Homo sapiens: one gene and its partners. The protein of the gene in region 1 interacts with the protein of each later gene in a pairwise test. Each region holds a gene or a part of one and is shown in the gene's direction. Other genes may lie near its edges.

Region 1 (7,008 bases):
ATCTGCCCGCCTCAGCCTCCCAAAGTGCTGGGATTACAGGCGTGAGCCACCGTGCCCAGGCTTTTTTTTTTTTTTTTTTAATAGAGAAGAGATGTCACTATATCACCCAGGCTGGTCTTGAACTCCTGGGCTCAAGCAATCTTCCCACCTTGGCTTCCCAAAGTGCTGGGATTACAGGCTGTGAGCCACAGCGCCTGGCCATAATTTTTTTTTCAGTTTTGTAGAGATGGAGCCTTGCTGCGTCACAAGGCTGGTCTCAAACTCCAGGTCCCAAGTGATCCTCCTACTTCAGCCTCCCAAAGTGCTGAGATGACAGGCATGTGTCACTGTGCCTGGTGAGTCTGCCATTTTTTATTTCATTTTATTGAGATGGAGTCTCACTCTGTTGCCTAGGCTGGAGTGCAGTGGCATGATTTCAGCTCACTGCAAGTTCCACCTCCTGGATTCAAGCGATTCTCCTGCCTCAGCCTCCCAAGTAGCTGGGATTACAGGCATGCATCACCACACCCGGCTGATTTTTGTATTTTTAGTAGAGACAGGGTTTCACCATGTTGGCCAGGCTGGTCTCAAACTCCTGACCTCAGGTAATCCACCCGCCTCGGCCTCCCAAACTGCTGGGATTACAGGCGTGAGCCACCGCACCTGGCCAAGTCTTCCATTTTAAATGTGAGAACATTGAAGTCCACCTAAAGTTACATGGTATCTCATCAACAAGAGGACAGTAGCTGCCATCAGAGGCTGACATGGCCATGCAGCCAAGTAGACATGTTTTTCTAATTGACTGGGAGGCAGAGAGTGGCACTCTGGAAGGAGAACCCTGGGCATGTCAGACGGACCTGGGTTCTGATCCCAGCTCTCCTGGTTGAAGAACTGCCATAGTTCAAGTGAAAAAAAAAAAAAAAAAAAAAAGGTGCCACAGTCCAGAAAGAAGTTTGTTTTAGGAGATAGTCTTCTAGGCTGAGCAGACTAGAGCTGTTAAGAGCTCCCTGAGGGCAGAGACTTATCTTACCTTTATATCCCTGGTGGCTAGTGCAGTTCCAAGGACATAGTTGGTACGCAATAGGAGTGCTTGAATAGGAGATTTGGAAGAGAGGAGGCAGGGGAGGGAACTCAAGAGAGTTTAGAATCAAGAATCCAAGGAGGAGACAGCCTAGAAAGAGTGGGTCCAAGACAGAGACTTCAGGCATGTGGCCCTGGTTCCCTTACTCCAAGCCATTGGGAAATCCTCCAGAGGAACATGGTGCTGTGGCTTTAACTGACTTCAGCATTGTCAATGAATCTGCTCTGCTAAAAGAGTTATCCTCTTGCTCCTGGGCTTGGCCTCCCCCTCCTCTCAGCTCCCCAAACCCTTCTCGGCTGCTGTGATGGGATAATTAGATGCGAGAGCTCAGCACAGATGATGCTCCAGTTGCTTAGCAACTAATGGTTTCCATGGAGACCGCAAAGCACAGCCTCCAGAGCAGCCAGTGAGCAGCTCGGCAGGGCAGGGAGAAGACGCAACTCCCCGCTCCTCCAGAAACCTGGGGAGGGCTGGGGTGGGGAAGGTGGGGGGGGGGGATTGGAGGGAGAAGGGAGAGCTTAAAGGCACAGGGCCCTCTTATCCCTTTAAAATCTGATCAGAGATCTGCCCTCCCCTACTCCACTCTGTACCACTCATAATTTTAGATGGGGATGGGGGCTTAAGAGTGGACCCAACTCAACCCACCCTGCAATAAACCCAACCTCTTCTTTCTGCTTCTTGGTTGTGAATGAGGAGAAAGACCTCCCAGTTCAAGTGTAAACAACTTACTGGTGGGTGACAGGTTTTGAGGAGTACCAGGAAGATCCCCTCACCCTGGCATTCCACCATTTAATCTGTCCCCTCTCTCCCAAGTTGTCCTTAATGTGCAAGAGACCCTCTTTCCATTTGTGCAGTGGTGGTGGAATCAAAAGCCAAGGTGCAGGAAAAACAGAACCAAATTCTTCACCCAAAAGCAGCCTGTTCGGGCAGATTGGGAAGGAACACCTGCCCTGATCCCTGATGTCCGTGGAAGAGGATCCAGCTGGGGGTGGGGATGCTGTTTACCAATACAGAGCAGCTGGCAACTTCAAGTGTGGGCCTTTCAGACCGGCATCATCAGTGTTACGGGGAAGTCACTAGAAATGCAGAATTGATTGGGCACGGTGGCTCACACCTGTAATCCCAACACTCTGGGAGGCCAAGGCGGGTGGATCACTTGTGGTCAGGAGTTTGAGACCAGCCTGGCCAACATGGTGAAACCTCATCTCTACTAAAAATGCAAAAATTAGCTGGGAATGGTGGCACATGCCTATAATCCCAGTTACTCAGGAGGCTGAGGCAGGAGAATCGTTTGAACCTGGGAGGCAGAGGTTGCAGTGAGCCGAGATCACGCCACTGCACTCCAGCCTGGGTGACACAGCGAGACTCTGTCTCAAAAAAAAAAAAAAATGCAGAATTTCAGGCTTCACCCCAGACCCACTGCATGACTGCATGAGAAGCTGCATCTTAACAAGATCCCTGGTAATTCATACGCATATTAAATTTGGAGATGCACTGGCGTAAGACCCTCCTACTCTCTGCTTAGGCCCATGAGTTCTTCCTTTACTGTCATTCTCCACTCACCCCAAACTTTGAGCCTACCCTTCCCACCTTGGCGGTAAGGACACAACCTCCCTCACATTCCTACCAGGACCCTAAGCTTCCCTGGGACTGAGGAAGATAGAATAGTTCGTGGAGCAAACAGATATACAGCAACAGTCTCTGTACAGCTCTCAGGCTTCTGGAAGTTCTACAGCCTCTCCCGACAAAGTATTCCACTTTCCACAAGTAACTCTATGTGTCTGAGTCTCAGTTTCCACTTTTCTCTCTCTCTCTCTCTCTCAATTTTCTGAGACAGAGTTTCACTTAGTTGCCCAGGCTGGAGTGCAGGGGCACAATCTCGGCTCACTGCAACCTCCACCTCCTGGGTTCCAGTGTTTCTCCTGTCTCAGCCTCCCGAGTAGCTGGGATTACAGGCACACACCACCGCGTTAGTTTTTGTATTTTTGGTAGAGATGGTGTTTCGCCATATTGGCCAGGCTGATCTCGAACTCCTGACCTCAGGTGATCCGCCCACCTCGGCCTCCCAAAGTGCTGGGATTACAGGCATGAGCCACCACGCCCGGCTGATCTCTTTTCTATTTTAATAGAGATCAAACTCTCTGTGTTGCCTAGGCTGGTCTTGAACTCCTGGCCTCGAGTGATCCTCCCACCTTGGCCTCCCAAAGTGCTGGGATTACAGGCATGAGCCACTGTGCCTGGCCTCAGTTCTACTACAAAAGGAAGCCAGTACCAGCTACCACCCAGGGTGGCTGTAGGGCTACAATGGAGCACACAGAACCCCTACCCAGGGCCCGGAAGACGTCCTGACTCCTCTCCCCTCCCTCTGCTCAGAACTCCTCTGCTTCTTTCTGATGTAGCCCAGGGCTGGAGGAGGCAGTCAGGGAAGTTCTGTCTCTTTTTCATGTTATCTTACGAGGTCTCTTTTCTCCATTCTCAGTTCAACAAATGGTTGCTGCCCAAGGCTGACTGTGCCCACCCCCAACCCCTGCTGGCCAGGGTCAATGTCTGTCTCTCTGGTCTCTCCAGAAGTCTTCCATGGCCACCTTCGTCCCCACCCTCCAGAGGAATCTGAAACCGCATGTGCTCCCTGGCCCCCACAGCCCCTGCCTCTCCCAGAGCAGCAGTACCTAAGCCTCAGTGCACTCCAAGAATTGAAACCCTCAGTCTGCTGCCCCTCCCCACCAGAATGTTTCTCTCCCATTCTTACCCACTCAAGGCCCTTTCAGTAGCCCCTTGGAGTATTCTCTTCCTACATATCAGGGCAACTTCCAAACTCATCACCCTTCTGAGGGGTGGGGGAAAGACCCCCACCACATCGGGGGAGCAGTCCTCCAAGGACTGGCCAGTCTCCAGATGCCCGTGCACACAGGAACACTGCCTTATGCACGGGAGTCCCAGAAGAAGGGGTGATTTCTTTCCCCACCTTAGTTACACCATCAAGACCCAGCCAGGGCATCCCCCCTCCTGGCCTGAGGGCCAGCTCCCCATCCTGAAAAACCTGTCTGCTCTCCCCACCCCTTTGAGGCTATAGGGCCCAAGGGGCAGGTTGGACTGGATTCCCCTCCAGCCCCTCCCACCCCCAGGACAAAATCAGCCACCCCAGGGGCAGGGCCTCACTTGCCTCAGGAACCCCAGCCTGCCAGCACCTATTCCACCTCCCAGCCCAGCATGGCACCCCTGCTGCCCATCCGGACCTTGCCCTTGATCCTGATTCTGCTGGCTCTGCTGTCCCCAGGGGCTGCAGGTCTCTTCCATCTCTGGCAGGGGTGGGAAGGGGGCTGGGGGCCTGGACAGGGAGCACTGTACCTTCCAGGGCTCTCAAAGAGAGGTCTGGACAGTTGGGAGTCAGGGCTGGTGATGGCAGTGACTGGGTATCAGACACTGGGCTCAGGGTACACTCCTGATCCTCCTCCAGACCTAGGAGGCAGAGAGGTGTGGGCAAGGATCCGATGCTGCGGGGAGGGGTGAGGTTGGGCGCTGCCCGACTCCTGGCATCCAGGTTCTGGCTCTGGGGACCGCTTGGTGGAGGGTGCAGCTTCTGCAGCCCAAGCCTGCCACCTGGTGGTCATACTGGCACAGGCCTGGCTGTTCTGCCCAGGGTTCACAGAGTGGAAAGGGAGATGGCTCCAATGGGACCGGGCCAGATCTGTTGGCCAGGAGGGGTCAGTCCCCATCGGAGCTCCCTCCTGCCTCCCATCAGACTTCAACATCTCAAGCCTCTCTGGTCTGCTGTCCCCGGCGCTAACGGAGAGCCTGCTGGTTGCCTTGCCCCCCTGTCACCTCACAGGAGGCAATGCCACACTGATGGTCCGGAGAGCCAATGACAGCAAAGGTCTGCTACCTTCTCCCAAGGCATCCCTCTAGTCCCCAAAGACCCCTTCCTGCGACACCCTCTGCACCCTTTTCCCCATTCATGCCTTCCTGTCCACCCGTCTCCTGGGGTACCCACACTCTAAAAGCTGCCCCTTCTCCTTGGGGCCTCCAGAAACTTGACCCAGTCTTCCCCTCCCGCCACTTCTGCCCAGTGGTGACGTCCAGCTTTGTGGTGCCTCCGTGCCGTGGGCGCAGGGAACTGGTGAGTGTGGTGGACAGTGGTGCTGGCTTCACAGTCACTCGGCTCAGTGCATACCAGGTGACAAACCTCGTGCCAGGAACCAAATTCTAGTAGGTACTGGGTCCAGCCTGAGGCACCTAGGGAAGGGGGTGCAGGAAGAGAGAGAAGCTAGTGTGGGGGAGATCTGGTGGGCATGAGGAGAGGGTGAGGGCACAGCAAAAGGGGGTGAAAGCTGGGCCTCTTGGAGGAGTGCACATAGGGGAGACACAGCTGTGAGGGTAGGTGGCCCAGGCTGGAGCCCCTCTTCCTGTAAGTCCCAATACTCACTGAGGGTTCTCTACTCTCTCCCAAACCACAAAAGCATTTCCTACCTAGTGAAGAAGGGGACAGCCACTGAGTCCAGCAGAGAGATCCCAATGTCCACACTCCCTCGTAAGTAACACTCCCGCCTCCCTTTCCCATCTCAGCGGCCACAAACGCTTCCCTGACCATTCCTGCCTCATCCCCAGTCTGGGTTGCCTGTGCCTCCCCGTGCGCCCTCGGGGCCCCTGCTTACCTCTATCCTAGCACGGAACCTTCGGCATGGCTACTGCACACTCAGCTAAAGGTTCCTCGTGGGCAGGGACTGTGTCCTCTTAACTTTTCCTCAGCGGCTGACATAGGAGATGCTTCATAAATGTCTATGTGATGGGTGTTTGGATCCATCAGCTGGTTGGTTGGTTGGTTGGTTGGCTGGCTGGCTGGCTGGCTGGCTGGCTGGTTGGTTGGGCAGTCTGTTGGCTGGATGAGTGTGAGGCCGTGAGCCTCAGGCAGGCTGGGGGTCTCTCCCGCCCACAGTGGTCTCCCCTCTCTTTTGACAGGAAGGAACATGGAATCCATTGGGCTGGGTATGGCCCGCACAGGGGGCATGGTGGTCATCACGGTGCTGCTCTCTGTCGCCATGTTCCTGCTGGTGCTGGGCTTCATCATTGCCCTGGCACTGGGCTCCCGCAAGTAAGGAGGTCTGCCCGGAGCAGCAGCTTCTCCAGGAAGCCCAGGGCACCATCCAGCTCCCCAGCCCACCTGCTCCCAGGCCCCAGGCCTGTGGCTCCCTTGGTGCCCTCGCCTCCTCCTCCTGCCCTCCTCTCCCCTAGAGCCCTCTCCTCCCTCTGTCCCTCTCCTTGCCCCCAGTGCCTCACCTTCCAACACTCCATTATTCCTCTCACCCCACTCCTGTCAGAGTTGACTTTCCTCCCATTTTACCACTTTAAACACCCCCATAACAATTCCCCCATCCTTCAGTGAACTAAGTCCCTATAATAAAGGCTGAGGCTGCATCTGCCACATGTGTTTCCCTTTAGTGGGCTCTACCTTGGCTCAAACCTGTGGAATCTATGTCCAAGCTGCAGGTGCTCCTGGTCCCCTCCCTGCCCCACAGCCCAGAGTTACTTTTCCCATGAGGCAGGCAGGGGCCAGTAAGAGCCCAGCAGTCAGAGTTCTCAGAGACACACCGGGGCTGTGGGTTTGGCAGCATCCACAGTACACAGTGGGCCACTCAACTAGGGGTGCAGGTCAGGGCAGAAGCTGGGGCTGGTGCCCCATGTGGAGGCCTGGAGGCCTGGGGGTGGGGGTGGGGGGCAGGCAGAGCAAGGGAAGTGCTAGGGAAAAGAGGAGAGGATCTGTCTGGGAAAAGACAGGCCAGGTGCAGTGGCTCATGCCTGTAATCCCACCACTTTGGGAGGCCAAGGCGGTCAGCTGGCTTGAGGTCAGGAGTTTGAGACCAGCCTGGCCAACATGATGAAACCCCGTCTCTACTAAATATTAAAAAAAAAAAAATAGCCAGGTGTTCGGGCAGGTGCCTATAACCCCAGCT
Region 2 (4,303 bases), on another chromosome or scaffold:
CGACCTCCTGACCTCGTGATCCTCCTGCCTCCACCCCCCAAAGCGCCAGGATTCTAGGTGTGAGCCACCACACCTGTCCTGAATCTATATTTATGAGAGACATTGGCCTTAAGCTCTCTTTTTTTTTTTTTTTTTTTTTTTTTGAGATGGAGTCTCGCTCTGTCACCCAGGCTGGAGTGCAGTGGCGCAATCTCGGCTCACTGCAAGCTCCGCCTCCCGGGTTCACGCCATTCTCCTGCCTCAGCCTCCCAAGTGGCTGGGACTACAGGCGCCGGCCACCACGCCCGGCTAATTTTTTGTATTTTTAGTAGAGATGGGGTTTCACCGTGTTAGCCGGGATAGTCTCAATCTCCTGACCTCGTGATCCGCCTGCCTCGGCCTCCCAAAGTGCTGGGATTACAGGCGTGAGCCACCGCGCCTGGCCAAGTTCTCTTTCTTATAATGTGCTTTGTTGTCAAGATGATGCTGACCTCATAAAATATGCTGGGAGAGTGTTTCCTCTGTTTTATGGCCTGAAGAGTTAGTGTAGGAATAGAATCATTTCTACATTGGAAGAATTCACTAATTGATGTCTTCTGGACCTGGAATTTTAGTTTTTGGAAAGTTTTAAACTATGGATTAAAAATTTTAAATAGGCCGGGTGTGGTGCATCATGCCTGTAATCCCAGCACTTTGGGAGGCTGAGGCAGGTAGATCACAATGTCAGGAATTTGAGACCAGCCTGGCCAATATGGTGAAACACCGTCTCTACTAAAAATAAAAAAATTACCCGGCATGGTGGTGCATGCACCTGTAGTCCCAGCCACTCGGGAGGCTGTGGAAGAAGAAACTCTTGAACCCAGGAAGTGGGGGTTGCAGTGAGTCGAGATCGTGCCACTGCACTCCAGCCTGGGTGACAGAGCGAGACTCTTATCTCAAAAACAAAAGGCTAGGCGTGGTGGCTCACACCTGTAATCCCAACACTTTGGGAGGCCCAGGCGGATGGATCATGAGGTCAGGAGATTGAGACCATCCTGGCTAAGACGGTGAAACCCCGTCTCTACTAAAAATACAAAAAATTAGCCAAGTGTGGTGGTGGGCACCTATAGTCCCAGCTACTCAGGAGGCTGAGGCAGGAGAATGGCGTGAACCCAGGAGGCGGAGCTTGCAGTGAGCCGAGATCGCGCCACTGCACTCCAGCCTGGGAGACAGAGCAAGATTCCATCTCAAAAAAAAAAAAAAAATTTAAATAGTTATAGGACTACAGACGTTTTAAATTTCCTCTTGTGTCAGTTTAGAAGGTTGTATTTATCAGGAATGTGTTCAGTTCATCTAAATTTTCAAATGTGTTGCTGTGGAATTTTTCATAATTATCCTCTATCTTTTTTTTTTTTTCTTTTTTTCTGAGACGGGGTCTCACTCTGTCGCCCAGGCTGGAGTGCAGTGGCACGATCCTGGCTCACTGCAACATCTGCCTCCCAGGTTCAAGCAATTCTCCTGCCTCAGCCTCCTGAGTAGCTGGGACTACAGGTGCCCGGCTAATTTTTGTATTTTTAGTAGAGATGGGGTTTCACCATGTTGGCCAGTGTGGTCTCGAACTCCTGACCTCAGGTGATCCACCCACTTTGGCCTCCCAAAGTGTTGCGATTACAGGCGTGAGCCAACATGCCCAGCCCAAGGAGGTGACATCTTGAGGGGACACCTTCGGGGTGGACAGGTTGAGTCTCTGTCACCTAGGAAGTGCCTCCCCTTTTACCACTGTATTATCTGCGGTTAGCACAGTGCAAACATGGAGGCCTCTTTCTGTCCCTATCCAGCCCTGGCTCTGGGAGTGGTGGGCTCGCGACTTAGGCCTGTCTGCCTGATTTCCTGCAGAGCCCCCCTCCATGCGCCTGAAGGCCCGACCCAGCAGCCCTGGCTTTTCCGTGCTTACCTGCAGCGCCTTCTCCTTCTACCCTCCGGAGCTGCAACTTCGGTTCCTGCGGAATGGGCTGGCCGCTGGCACCGGCCAGGGTGACTTCGGCCCCAACAGTGACGGATCCTTCCACGCCTCGTCGTCACTAACAGTCAAAAGTGGCGATGAGCACCACTACTGCTGCATTGTGCAGCACGCGGGGCTGGCGCAGCCCCTCAGGGTGGAGCTGGGTGAGGTCCCGCCAGGTGGTGATGCTCCTGGTTTCCCGTTGCCTTGTCTCACTGCTGCGCCGGTCCTTCCTGAGTCTGACCTTCCTCCCCACTGCTGCCACCTCCTTGAATCTGACTGCCTTGAACCTCACGCCTGTCAGTGCCCCCAAAACCTGATGGCTTGTCCTTCCCAAGGCCAACTGCCTTCCGTCTCCTGCTGCTTCTGGCCTCACTGAGTCTGAAGAGCTGTTAACTACCATGGCCAGTCCTCCCTGAGTCTGACCATCTTCCATCCTGCTGCTGCTGCTGCTGCTGCTGCGGGTCTTCCTGGAATCTGACCATTCGTTGTCTGCTATGCCCGTCCTCACCAAGACTGACTGCCTGCTGCTTTGCTACTGCCCGGGCCCATGAGACTGACTTCCCACTGCTCTGCCTGCCTCTCCCCACTGCACTGGCACAGCCCCGCCTTGCCGCTGCTGATCCATTGCCGGTGTGACCGCGGCCGCTCGTGCTGTAGCTGGTTCTTACGTCCAACCTGGGGGCAGTCTGCCCAGATCGCCTGCCTGGCCTCGCCTCTGCCCATCAGACACTTGGTGCTGGAATCTCCGAGGCTGGGAGGGACTGGGAGCGCCCCAGTTCTGTGTCCTGACTGGGTGGGGTGGAGGGGCTGCTCCACATCTCACAGCGTTCTCTGGCTGCAGAATCTCCAGCCAAGTCCTCCGTGCTCGTGGTGGGAATCGTCATCGGTGTCTTGCTACTCACGGCAGCGGCTGTAGGAGGAGCTCTGTTGTGGAGAAGGATGAGGAGTGGGCTGCCAGGTGGGGGGCAGCGGGAGGAAGAGCCTCTGAGAGAGGGACAGAGACCCCAAGAGAGGGGCACACAGACCTGGGAGGACAGAGACCCAGAGAGGGGGGACAGAGATCAGAGAGAGGTGGAGACAGAAACCCAGAGATGGGAGAACAGAGGTGCAGAGAGAGGGGGACGGAGACAGAGACCCAGAGACGGGGGAACAGAGACCCAGAGGGGACAGAGAGAGGTGCGGACAGAGGGAGGGGGAGACAGACCCAGAGGAGGGAGGCAAAGATGTAGAAAGAGGGGGGACGGAAAATTGGGAGAAGGGGAGACAAAGGCCCAGAAGGAAGGGGATAGAGACTGAGGAAGAGTGTGTGAGACACACACACAAATGGGGGACGCCAGTCAGACCCAGAGCGCCTCAGAGATTCTGATGACCTCTCCCTCTCTCTCTCTCCTCAGCCCCTTGGATCTCCCTTCGTGGAGACGACACCGGGGTCCTCCTGCCCACCCCAGGGGAGGCCCAGGATGCTGATTTGAAGGATGTAAATGTGATTCCAGCCACCGCCTGACCATCCGCCATTCCGACTGCTAAAAGCGAATGTAGTCAGGCCCCTTTCATGCTGTGAGACCTCCTGGAACACTGGCATCTCTGAGCCTCCAGAAGGGGTTCTGGGCCTAGTTGTCCTCCCTCTGGAGCCCCGTCCTGTGGTCTGCCTCAGTTTCCCCTCCTAATACATATGGCTGTTTTCCACCTCGATAATATAACACGAGTTTGGGCCCGAATCAGTGTGTTCTCATCATTTTTCAGGCAGGGGAGGTAAGGGAATAAGTCGGGGGACTGAATGGCGGCTGGGCCTCGGATCTCTCCTACAGGTAACATGCTGCCACAGGGGAACCTGCCAGTTTTATACATCAGGTCATGTATTTTCTTTTTCTTTTTCTTTTTTCTTTTTTTTTAGACGGAGTCTTGCTCTGTTGCTCAGTCCGGAGTCCTGTGGCGCGATCTCGGCTCACTGTAAGCTCCGCCTCCCTGGGTTCACGCCATTCTCCTGCCTCAGGCTCCCGAGTAGCTGGGACTACAGGCGCCTGCCACCATGCCTGGCTAATTTTTTGTATTTTTAGTACAGACGGGGTTTCACCATGTTAGCCAGGATGGTCTCGATCTCCTGACCTCATGATCCACCCGCCTCTGCCTCCCAAAGGGGTGGGATTACAAGTGTGAGCCACCGCGCCCGGCCTAAGGTCACTTTTTTTTTTTTTTTTTAAGACAGAGTTTTGCTCTTGTTGCTCAGACTGGAGTACAATTGCGTGATCTCAGCTCACTGCAACCTCCGCCTCCCAGGTTCAAGCAATTCTCCTGCCTCCCAAGTAGCTGGGATTACAGGCATGCACCACCACACCCGGC
Region 3 (6,009 bases), on another chromosome or scaffold:
TGTAGTCCTAGTGAGTCTGGTCCCCTGTCACAGACTCAGTTTCCCCCCTCTAGAAGATGGGGTGTCCACAGGAACCTGGCCCTGGATGCAGGGGGTCAGCGGAGTTTCCCGCAAGGCACGGTCACAGGCTGCAGGCTGCATTGCTCAGTGGCAGTGCTGGTGGCTCCTGCCATCCCCGAGTGCCCCCCTCCTCTGGGGCTCAGTTTCCCCATTTGGCCACACTCCCCCTTAGACAAACACAGACGGGGCGCCACCTGGCTGGGCAGGAGGGGGCCTCGGCAGCTTCTCACGAAGAACAGCAGCCAAGGTGGGGGCTGGCGGGGCTGGCACAGGCCGGCCTCGTTAAGCTGCCAGTCCTTGGCACCACTCTGCTTTCGTGGAGGCGTCTGGAGAAGGGCCCAGGCCTGGCTGTTGGGGGACTGAGGAAGCTGGGATGAAGCTGAGACCCTTTTTCAGAGGGGGCAGGCCCTGAGTGATGGCAAGGAGTTCTATGTTCACTTATTAAGCATCTACTGGATGCCAGACCAGGCTACTCAGGCAGGGCGTTTGCCCGTGCTGTTCTAGCTGCCAGGATCGCGTTTCCTGTTCATAGCACTATCCACTGCTCATTCTGATCTCAGTCTAGAAGACACCACCTCCAGGAAGCCTTCTAGATTCTCTAGAATAAGCCAGGTGCGGCCGGGCGCGGTGGCTCATGCCTGTAATCCCAGCACTTTGGGAGGCCGATGCGGGCGGATCACGAGGTCAGGAGATCGAGACCATCCTGGCTAATGCAGTGAAACCCCGTCTCTACTAAAAATACAAAAAATTAGCCGGGCATGGTGGTGGGCGCCTGTAGTCCCAGCTACTCGGGAGGCTGAGGCAGGAGAATGCCGTGAACCTGGGAGGCAGAGCTTGCAGGGAGCTGAGATGGTGCCACTGCACTCCAGCCTGGGCGACACAGCGAGACTCCGTCTCAAAAAAAAAAAAAAAAAAAAGAATAAGCCAGGTGCCTCCCTTTGGGTTGGCACGGTGCCTGAGTTTTCCCCATCACAGTTTGATCACTCAATATTTTATTTTTAGAGGTGGGGTCTTGCTCTGTGGCCCGCTGCTGGAGTGCCACAGCATGATCAGAGCTCACTGCAGCCTCAAACTCCCAGGCTCAAGCGATGTTCCCGCTTCAGCCTCCCGAGTAGCTGTGATCACCCAATATTATAACTGGGCTGTGGGCAGGTCACTTAGGCCATCAACAAATGCAAACAGAGCACTTCGTACGTGGTAGGCACTATGCTTAGCACCGTCCATGCTCAGCGAACCCCGCAGTGCAGGTGCTGATGCTGCCTCCTCTTTACAGAAGGGGCAACTGAGGCTCACAGTGGCTGAATGGTGGAGTGAAGCCACATGGCCTGGAGTCTGGTGCACAGAAGGGCCCGGGAAAAGCTCATTTCCATCCCCAGGGACAGTGAGCTCACTCACCACTGAAGGAGGCCTAAGCTGGAGGTGTGGGGATTCATTCATTCAACAAATATGTATTGGGCAGCCATTGAAGGCCAGGTTACTCAAGTGTGTCCGAGTGACAGGTGGTGTTGGACGCCTCCAACATCTGTTGTCTTGTCCTCCATAGTAATAGAAGCCCTGGTTTTCAGCTGCACAGTTGGCCATTCAGAATAAATACTACATTTCCCAGCAAGCTTTCTGCCAGGCATGGCCACGTGACTAATTCTGGCCAATGCAGTGTGAGCAGAAGTGGTGCCTGGGATTTCCAAGAAGTGTCCTTAAAGGGACAGGGTGAGCTCTTCCTCACTCTTTCCTCCTCATTGCCTGGGAGGCAGATGTGATGGCTGGAGCTCACGCACCTGCCTTGTCCCACGAGGAGGAGGCCATTTACTGAGGATATGGTGGATGGAAGGAGTCTGGGCTGCAGACACCCCAGCATCTCCATGCCATCCCAGGAATGACTACTCACATTCCACATTCAGAAGCAAATCAGCCCTGTACGCCTACACCGCTGTGGTTGGGTCTTGCTTACCACAGCCAACCCGAGCCTGACCGCTACATTTGTCCCTCTCTGCTTCTGTTTTTCCACTCTTGCCTCCTCTCATGCCTGCTGGACTGAAAAACCTGCCTCTGCTTGGTAGCACTGGGCTGCAAGGGCCATCCACAGTGGCCAAGGCAGTGGCCTCTAGATAGTGTGGCCTCCGTCTGTGGCAGTAGACAGAGCAGGGGCAGGAGTGCCACCAGGGGCCGGGCATGGTGGCTCACAAATGTAACCCCAGCACTTTGGGAGGCTGAGACTGGCAGATCACTTGAGGTCAGGAGTTCGAGACAAGCCTGGGCAACCTAGCAAAACCCCCGTTTCTATTAAGATACAAAAATTAGCCGGGCATGGCAGCATGTGCTCGTGGCCTCAACTGATCTGCCCGCCTCGGGCTCCTAAAGTGCTAGGATTACGGACATGAGCCACCATGCCCGGCCTTTTCTCCCTTTCTTAGAAGGAAAACCTCTGCAAAGATCTTATTTCCAAATAAGGTCCATTCACAGGGGTTGGTCAGAACCAGGGGTTAGGGGTTCAACATCTCTATTTGGGGCCCACCCACTACATGGTACAAGAGATTTGTGTGGGAGGTGATCTCAGAAGCTGTGGGAGGGGAGAGAAGTGGGTGGGGAAGGGAAGGAGACAGTAGCGGGCTCATTGACAAGACAGTACTGGGTTCGTTGACTTATGGAGCTCATTCGACTGGGGACCTCTAGGAGATATGGTAGAACATACTTCGATTTGTCCCATAAGAGGGACGAGGGAGTGGGGGCATTTATCTACCACCTCCCATCTGTCACTGGCTGAGGGCTGCTCTGAGAGGTATTAGGCCAACACAGAAAATCTAAAGACTAAGTAGTCAGCCTGGCAAAGTGAAGTTGAGGAGCAAGAATTCTGTTCCAGGCAGAGGGAACAGCATTTGCAAAATTCTAGAGGTGAACAAAGCAAGATGCCTCTGGGACATTGCAAATCATCCAGGCTTCAGAGATTGGCAGGCGCCCAACCACAGGGGTGCATGTAGGCCACAGAGAAGAGTGTGGGCTTTATCTGGAGGGCAATGGGGAGCCATGGGAGAGTTTAGAGCATGGGAAAGACTATGTTACAGGTCTGGAAGCTGAGGCCCAGAGAGGCTAAGGAATTTAGCTGATGTCATACAGCTTATGAATGGCAGAGACAGAAATCCGACTTGAGTGGGCTGCAGACAGATTGAGGGTGTGAAATTTGGGGGATGGGGACTGGGGAGGAGGTGAGGCTGATGCCCAGGGCTGAAGCTCAGGCAGGGGGCACAGTTGGAGACCCAGCTGGAGAGGCAATGCTATAGGGAGAGAGAATGAAGCTGGTGCAAGCCTGGAGGCCAACCTGGCGGTGCGGACTTGGGACCACTGACCCCCACCAGCCCCACCCTGACCCTGGCACTTGACTCTCCCTCCAAATCAAGTCCAGGAGGGCTCTGAGGATATATGGACTCAGACCTGAGTCCGGATAAAAGAGCCAGCTACGGAGAGAAAGGGCTTTCCAGGCAGGAGGCCCAGCCCATGCAAAGGCCCTGGGGCAGGATCCTGCCTGGTGTGTTGGAGGAACAGCAAGGAGATCTGTGTGGCTGGAGCAGAGTGAGGGATGGTGACAGGGGGTCAGGAATTTGGGTTTTAAGCACTGATCTCATTGTAGGGGGGCGTGGCTTGAACAAGTCTGGGTCACTCTTGGAGTCTCAGACAAGGGTAACATTGAACCTTCTACAGTGTGTTGCTAGGAACCTCCAGAAGCTGATGCTGGTAGCGTCTTCGCACAGTGAGGGCTGAATCTGCACTGCTGGGGGCCGGCAGCCCTTTTGAAGCATCCCTGGGCCTCCTTGGGTCCAAAGATACCCTGAGCCTTCAAGAAGTTATCTCAAAGCTTGCCCGGGTACCGGCAAATCACAGACCTAGGAATGATCCATTGGCCACAGGCCCAGGCAGCTGGCAGCTCCTGGGACAGAATGTAGCAGGGCGATGTCACAGAAGCTGGGGGCATCTAGAACCCTGGTGACTCCTGGTCTCCATGTCATCTGCCAGAAAGGCCACCTGCGCCAGCACCTCCTGAGACCGGCCTTCAAAGACACGACGCATGCCGCTCTGCCGTCCGGAGCACTTAATGCCTAGAGCCAGCAGGGTCCCAGTGGCCGCGTCACTGCCTCTGAGCCACGCGGTCATTCCAACTCAACTGCCCTCGCGTCCTGGCCACAGGCCCCCTGGGAGACCCCGGAGATGCCCAAAGGCCTCATGCCTGCCGCCTCCAGTGGGACCTAGCAGCACACAGACAGCGAAGCGGGTGACCATGGGGTGGCCACGGCCGGGCCGAGCCCTCGTGGCAGTCAAAGCCTTGCTGGTCTTGTCGCTGCTCCAGGTGCCCGCGCAGGCAGTGGTACGGGCCGTGCTGGAAGACAACTCGAGCTCGGTGGACTTTGCGGATCTGCCGGCGCTGTTCGGCGTCCCCCTGGCCCCCGAGGGCATACGGGGCTACCTGATGGAGGTCAAGCCAGCCAACGCGTGCCATCCCATCGAGGCCCCGCGACTGGGCAACCGCTCTCTGGGCGCCATCGTGCTGATCCGCCGCTACGACTGCACCTTCGACCTCAAGGTGCTGAACGCCCAGCGCGCCGGCTTCGAGGCGGCCATCGTGCACAACGTCCACTCCGACGACCTCGTGAGCATGACCCACGTCTACGAGGACTTGAGGGGCCAGATCGCCATCCCCTCAGTGTTCGTGAGCGAGGCCGCCTCGCAGGACCTGCGGGTCATCCTGGGCTGCAACAAGTCGGCCCACGCGCTGCTCCTGCCCGACGACCCACCGTGCCACGACCTGGGCTGTCACCCCGTGCTGACCGTGTCCTGGGTGCTGGGCTGTACCCTGGCCCTGGTCGTATCAGCCTTCTTTGTCCTGAACCACCTGTGGCTCTGGGCCCAGGCCTGCTGCAGCCACAGACGGCCGGTGAAGACGTCTACCTGCCAGAAGGCCCAGGTCCGCACCTTCACGTGGCACAACGACCTGTGTGCCATCTGCCTGGATGAGTATGAGGAGGGCGACCAACTCAAGATCCTGCCCTGCTCCCACACCTACCACTGCAAATGCATTGACCCCTGGTTCTCCCAAGCCCCCCGGCGCTCCTGCCCCGTGTGCAAACAGTCGGTGGCCGCCACAGAAGACAGCTTTGACTCCACCACCTACAGCTTCAGGGACGAGGACCCCTCCCTACCGGGCCACCGGCCCCCCATCTGGGCCATTCAAGTCCAGCTACGCTCCCGGAGGCTGGAGCTGCTGGGCCGCGCCAGTCCCCACTGCCACTGCAGCACCACGTCCCTGGAGGCAGAGTATACCACTGTCTCCTCAGCCCCTCCTGAGGCCCCTGGTCAGTAAAGATCTAGGGCAGGGAGGGGGGTGCAATGAGGAATGTTTCTGGTCTGAAAAGAATAAAGTGGGTTTGAAAGCGGATTCTCAGCCTCGCTGCTGTTGGGCCACCCGCCTCTGACTGGGGTTGGGGGACACCCATCCCCATCAAGCCTAAGGCCAATCCCCGTTTCTGCGGGCGGGAGAGCGAGGGGTGGTGAGGGCTGGGGGGCCTTTTTGGGGCGGCTGTGACCGTGGTGCCGGAGTGGCTTTGAGACGGGTCGTCTGTGCTTTGGTTCCAGTCCCGGGCACACGGGTCACTCATCCTGGATGGCCTTATTCTTCATTCACATTTTTTCTTTTAAAATAAACGTTTTATTTTGGAACTGGTTTAGATTTCCAGAAAAGTTGCAAAGGTGCCATAGAGTTCTCCAACCCCTTTTACTCCGTTTCCTCTTATGTCTCATGGGATCCCAGGTGTGATGGGATGGGAGGCCGAGGTGGGAGGTTCGCTCAAGGTTAGAGGTTTGAGACCAGCCTGGGCAACATAACAAGACCCCACCTCTACAAAAAAATTTTCTTAGGCCGGGCGTAGTGGCTTACGCCTGTAATCCCAGCACTTTAAGAAGCCA

Evidence for each region.
Region 2: the proteins of UPK2 (region 1) and FCGRT interact in binary tests that used the Homo sapiens proteins (3 or more experiments, as listed by UniProt).
Region 3: the proteins of UPK2 (region 1) and ZNRF4 interact in binary tests that used the Homo sapiens proteins (3 or more experiments, as listed by UniProt).

What each region holds. Positions count from the first base shown.
Region 1 is NC_000011.10:118,952,081-118,959,088, forward strand, and holds UPK2 (uroplakin-2 precursor), read left to right. Parts: upstream 1-4,217; 5' UTR 4,218-4,270; coding exon 4,271-4,346; intron 4,347-4,802; coding exon 4,803-4,934; intron 4,935-5,127; coding exon 5,128-5,266; intron 5,267-5,517; coding exon 5,518-5,588; intron 5,589-6,016; coding exon 6,017-6,153; 3' UTR 6,154-6,479; downstream 6,480-7,008. UniProt on the Homo sapiens protein: Component of the asymmetric unit membrane (AUM); a highly specialized biomembrane elaborated by terminally differentiated urothelial cells. May play an important role in regulating the assembly of the AUM.
Region 2 is NC_000019.10:49,522,653-49,526,955, forward strand, and holds the end of FCGRT (IgG receptor FcRn large subunit p51 isoform 1 precursor), read left to right. Parts: intron 1-1,854; coding exon 1,855-2,124; intron 2,125-2,804; coding exon 2,805-2,921; intron 2,922-3,357; coding exon 3,358-3,467; 3' UTR 3,468-3,776; downstream 3,777-4,303. UniProt on the Homo sapiens protein: Cell surface receptor that transfers passive humoral immunity from the mother to the newborn. Binds to the Fc region of monomeric immunoglobulin gamma and mediates its selective uptake from milk.
Region 3 is NC_000019.10:5,451,375-5,457,383, forward strand, and holds ZNRF4 (E3 ubiquitin-protein ligase ZNRF4 precursor), read left to right. Parts: upstream 1-4,042; 5' UTR 4,043-4,117; coding exon 4,118-5,407; 3' UTR 5,408-5,482; downstream 5,483-6,009. UniProt on the Homo sapiens protein: E3 ubiquitin-protein ligase that acts as a negative regulator of NOD2 signaling by mediating ubiquitination and degradation of RIPK2. Also catalyzes ubiquitination and proteasomal degradation of CANX within the endoplasmic reticulum.